2 linked regions of the Homo sapiens genome follow. The protein of the gene in region 2 interacts with the protein of the main gene of each other region in a biochemical or structural test. Each region holds a gene or a part of one and is shown on either strand. Other genes may lie near its edges.

Region 1 (3,206 bases), on a different chromosome or scaffold from region 2:
TTAAGTAGAAATACATACAGTTCAGAAGTTTCTAGAGTTAGGGGAGGGCAGGCGCGGTGGCTCATGCCTGTAATCCCAGAACTTTGAGAGGCCGAGGTGGGTGGATCACTTTTGGTGAGGAGTTTGAGATCAGCCTGGCCAACACGGTAAAACCCCGTCTCTACTAAAAATACAAAAATTAGCTGGGTGTGGTGGCGGGTGCCTGTAATCCCAGCTACTCATGAAGCTGGGATAGGGGAATCACTTGAACCCGGGAAGCGGAGATTGTAGTGAGCTGAGATCGCACCACTGCACTCCAGACTGGGCGAAAGAGCAAGACTCCATCTCAAAAAAAAAAAAAAAAAAAAAAGAGGAAAAAAAAGAATTAAGGGGGCATATGATTGGAGGTGAGGAGACAAAGGAAGAACAGTCCTAGAGGCCTTGCTATGAAGTCTGAAACTTCATCCTGTAGGTATCCCATACCAATGAGGGAAAAACATTAACATATAAAGGCTGGGTCCTGCAAGACACCAAATAAACCACTGTGATTTCAGCTCAGCAGCTCATGTGATACCAATCAGAACCAGACAACATACCTCAGCCCTCACTCCCCTCTCCTCAAAATACACCTTGACTGGTTGTTTCAGAAACATGGACAAACTCAGGATCCCTCAGAGACAAACAGCATATAATGTGGATGACAAAACTGTGTACATCAAACTCTCAGCTCTAGTCCCAACTGAAGCTAATACATTATACAGCTGTGAGAGCAGACATTTCAAAATGGGGGTCAGGAAACTGGATTTTGGCAACTACTATCTTAAAAAGCCAGAGTGCAAATAAATTACACTCCACATTTATATCCTATCTGATTTGAGGCTAAGTGCTACACATTCCTTCAAATATGTTGGGAAAATAAATTAGCATCTAATTAAATTTCTTTAATACAATATATTTGCTAAATCTAGTATTTAATACTCAAGAATTATAAGGGAAGGACAAAAAAAAAAAAGAAAACAAAAAATAAAGAAAAAAAGCCCTATATAGATGAGTCCAAAGTGTAATTTATATGGAAGAACTTACCTTTGGAGAAAAATCTGTCTTGTCGTATACACAAACATTTGTATTTATTATTTCAAAGTCCACTCAAACAAAAGTTTAACATGCAAGGTTAGAGGTAAAATTAAGCTCACTATCTGTATTAGGCATCATTTTAAATGAAGGTAAACTAAAATAATTCAAATTAGTTTCCATCATTCAGAGTGCAACACCACCCCACCCCAAAAAAACCCGCAGCAAGAGAACAGGGTTATATTATGAAAGGAAGCCCTCAAGCTCAGTAAAATGTCATCTTTGTGCTCACTCTGGAATGGCTGACAGTGGTAGCTGCAGAACCATCTCTACAATGTATTAAATACATAATGCAGAAGTGTGGGAGATTTGGGAGCCACATTTAAACCCGCATAGCAGCAGATGAGGACAGACCATTTTTTTAACCCACTCCAACAGTTAGAAGCTGATAATGTGACATGTTCTTCTTAATGTTCCTACATGGTAGTCTTCTGCCAAAGTAATTAGCGCCTGCCCATTATTTCAAAAATTTCAATGACATAATTGACTGGCAAACCTTGGTCCATATCAGAAAAGTTTCTTACAATCCATGATGTAATTTCTTGATGCTCATTCATTTATTTCAATTGTTAATTTCTACTTTTTCTTGAGAAAAACATCTCTTAAAATAATCTGTAGCCATCAAATTGCCTGGACTTCAATAATGCATAGAGAAATTTTTACCAAACTTCTGCTTCCTGAATTACATAAAATGCTTATTTTAGCAACATTTTAGCCATATATACATTATAAACATTAAGTTTAAATAACATTTACTGATAATTTCCTTCAAAATACAATGAAAGGTACAGCAAGGGTGAAAATTTCACCTCAGTAGGACAGAAATTTTTTCTCTTGTGAGAAATAACCACATGAAATTGTCAACATTTGACTATTTTTGACCTACAACTAAAGAAAAAAATATGTATTAAAAAAAAAAAAAAGCCTGGCAATGTCATTGGCTAATCAGTTTTCCTCTAAAAATGACTTTCTGTAAAGTACTAAGTGAGAACGAGAAAAATATATTGTCTCAGACTAATACAAATATGTACCAACCTGCCCATATGTGAATTTGAATATAATTTTCTGCCATCAAATTTAACTTTAAAAATCTTACGGTCTACTTAGAAATAAAAATCTGACAAGTTAATGATTTCTAATGTTATCAGCACTTCCTATATCACTTGTAACTATTAAACATTCCTGTACTGTAGGCTCTTATTCATGATCAGTTTGTAAGCACACTCTCAATAGTCAAAAAACACAACAACAGCACTGGGTTCCATGTATTAAAGTGATTTCCCTAACATGATGTTTGCCAACAGCAGCAGTGTTAACTCTGACAGAGTAACAACAAATTGTAAAAGGGCTGTAAATCTCTATAAAGAGTGATCTACCTCTTCCTAACCAGGTAACGGGACTTCTGAAGATACATAACTGCTACCAAGTACAATGTCATAGACAAGAACATGGACTCTGGAGCCCAACTGCCTGGGTTCAAATCTCAGCTCTCTGACTAACCAGCCGTGGGAACTCGGTCAAGTTACATAACCCTTATGTGTCTCAGTTTTCTCATATGTAAAACATTCCTACAACTTTCACTATGAAGATTAAACACAGATTAAGTGGTCAGAATCATGCCTGAGACACAGTGATTTTTATGTAAGTGTTCCCAATACCATCTTTATCTGCACAATAAGGTAGGCAGTGAGAAAAGCAGAAATCTTCCAGGCCCTATTACAGTCAGTCAGTTGGGAAAGAGAAGAAGAGTTCTCAACCACCAGTCAGGAGAATTTAGTTCTAATCACAATTAACCTTTGTTATCAGAGTTTTAGGGGCTTGCATGATTTTATTAGAATATGCTGGAAGCATTTCATGAAAATTCAGATATGAACAGTTACAAACTTACATTTGAAAATTAGAATCATTCTCACATACACACACAGACACACACACATATATATATAATATACATACATATATATGGTCTTCTGGCTTTTAATGAAATTTCAAGTTATATTCAAGAAATTGATCTCAAATCTTTTGAGAACCAATAATGATATTGTAGTTGCATACCATACAAATATCATAGTAGGTTATATTTTTCTATTTTGCAA
Region 2 (2,393 bases):
AGCGCTGCCCTCTTGGAGGGTGATGAGTCGGAAACAAAGTCTTCTCTCCCCTCCTCGGAGACATCACATCACTTAAACAAGAAAGAGGCGGCGGACATCCACACCAGTCCTGAAGGAGACTCCTGTGGAGCCGGGCCTGGCCCCCTAGGCCATGTCTCCACGTGGAGGGGGCGGGGAGCCTGACCTTCCGCCCTGAGCTGGTCTCCTGTGGCCCAAGGCCCGGCCTCCCGCTCTGTCCTGCCATGGAGAAAACGTCTCCGTTGCCTGGGCCCTCCATGCCAGTTGCTGAGTGGCCTACGTTGGAAGAGAAGGACAAGTCCCCAGCCCTGAGCTCCGCCAGCGTGGGTGGCAGCCTGGGGAAGAGGAGGCCTGGCCCTCCAGCTGTGGTGGGTCTGGATTGGAGGCGCCAGAGGTTTTTGCTCGAGGGGCACCTGGGAGGTGGGCGTCAGGGCCCCACTGCGGCGGGAACATAGCTGCTGAGTGGCCGCAGTGCTTGGCAGGGCGAGGGCTGTCCCCACAGTCGATGTTCAGGCCAGATGTCCTGCACTGAGGCCCCCAAACCCAAGCTGAGGGCAGGAGGGTCCGCTTCCCACGTGGATGGAGGCAGAGTTGCTCGGGACCCCAGCCGTCCCCTCTGCAGGCCGATGGGGCCCCCGGGGCTCAGGTCCCCAGAGGCCACCGCGAACAGCCTGGCTTCTTCCTCAGGACACAGGCAGGCACAGCAGAGAACCAAAGAGTGCAGTGGGCAGGGGCTCTTCTCCCTCTGGTTGGTTTGTTTGTGTCTTTTTTGTTCTTTTCCTAAAACGGCACACACGTGCTTCCGTCTCTGTGCCAAATAAGGACTCAAATGCGATTGGCCGCTCGGGAGGGTGGGTCTCACAGGGGCAGGCTGCCGACCGGGGTGCCGGGGCCCTGGGAGGCTTGTCGGGGAGGGGCCCGGCCGTCGGCATCCGTGCAGGGGGAGGACGAGGTCCGGTGGGGCGGCGAGGCGGGCATCTCCCGAGCTCTGGGCCTCAGCGGGGTGGGCAGCGCCTTCGGGGGCAGCCGGAGCAGAAGTGGAGCTCGGCTCTGGGTCGGGGGCTGCATAGAAATTACTGCAAGAGCAAGAGGACAGGTGAAGGTGGGCGGGGCGAGGGCCCACCCCAGGCCCCCTGCCAGGGACTGGCTTCCTTGGGCCAACACAGGCCCTGAGACACTTAGCCCACGGCCACCTCAGAGCCAGAGAGCCCAGGGTGGAGCTCTGGGCCACCTGTGCCCTCCCGCCCCGGGCCTCAGTCCCTGCCTATCCCAGTAGCTGGGGACCACGCTCAGTAGAACCTTGGAGCCCACGGGACCGGCGGGTGCACCTGGGCTGCACTTACTGTGTCGCTCTCGCCGTCGGAGGCCGGGGGGGCCTGGGCGCTATAGTGGAGCGGGGAGTACACCCAGCTCCTCTCATCGGTGGGCTGGCAGGTGGGCGCGCGTGCAGGAGGGCGCGGAAGAGCAGGGTGCGAGGAGGTGCAAGAGAGGCAGAGGGAGGAAGGAAGAGACAGGAGAACATAAAAGAGGCGAATCCCCCATGGAAGACGAGGGGTGGCTCAGCCCAGCTGCCCTCTCTGACCCGGTGGACTTGCTCCCAACCTGGACGGGCCTGGGGCCTCAGCTCAGCTTGGCGGGGCGGGGCACGGCGGGCGGCAGAAAGCAGTTAGTTCAGTCGAGGCAGGGCCTGAGATAGCAGGTGACAGAGCCGGCGGAAGCGGGTGGGGGTCGCGACCTGGAGCACCGAGTGTTCCTCCTCCTCCTCCTCCTCCACAGCCCGGCCCCACCACAGCCCCCAATCCTGCCTGTGCCACGGGCACCAGCGCACAGGCTCCTGGAAGCTCTCTATGGGGGTCCTGGGAGGTCGGGGTGCCGGACCTACTTCCCAACCCAGAAGCCTTTTGGGACCTGAATATATGGCTGCCTGCGGGCAGGGCCAGTCCCCTCTGCCAGCACAGACGTGCTAGGAGAGACTGAGGCTCGGACCACCCACCCTGCAAGAGCCAGGAGACGCCTTCCTGAGCAGCAGGGCAGAGTGAGGGCCAAGTTCAGGGCTAGGCACAGGCAGGGCCGTGTGCAGGGACACGGACAGCTCTTCCCAGCTGTGCCTGCGTGAGGGGTCCCAGGTCTGGGTGGGATCTGGGGAGGGAGGGAGGGTGCGTTCCTCCAACACCTCCGTCCCGCCTCCTGAGGAGCCCCCACCCCCTCAAGCTCCCCCTGCTTCTCCTGCCCCTAGGCTGCTCTGCTTTCTCAGGGCTCCAGCCTGGCCGCCCTGTCTTCCTTGTTGTGTCCTCCTCTCTCTCGGGCCTCTGTCACCAACCCAGCCTTCAACGCCCCTCCCGGCACAGATGACCTGCGAATTTCCACCAGGCCTG

What was found. The genes of interacting proteins can lie anywhere in the genome.
Region 1: the proteins of PIP5K1C (region 2) and ITGB1 form a complex in vitro, tested with the Homo sapiens proteins (one study listed by BioGRID).

Annotation. Positions count from the first base shown.
Region 1 is NC_000010.11:32,903,025-32,906,230, forward strand, and holds part of ITGB1 (integrin beta-1 isoform 1A precursor), read right to left. Parts: intron 1-3,206.
Region 2 is NC_000019.10:3,632,076-3,634,468, forward strand, and holds part of PIP5K1C (phosphatidylinositol 4-phosphate 5-kinase type-1 gamma), read right to left. Parts: intron 1,706-2,393; coding exon of another isoform or gene 1,685-1,705; exon of another isoform or gene 1,621-1,684; intron 1,446-1,620; coding exon 1,362-1,445; intron 1,095-1,361; coding exon 1,092-1,094; 3' UTR 1-1,091. UniProt on the Homo sapiens protein: Catalyzes the phosphorylation of phosphatidylinositol 4-phosphate (PtdIns(4)P/PI4P) to form phosphatidylinositol 4,5-bisphosphate (PtdIns(4,5)P2/PIP2), a lipid second messenger that regulates several cellular processes such as signal transduction, vesicle trafficking, actin cytoskeleton dynamics, cell adhesion, and cell motility.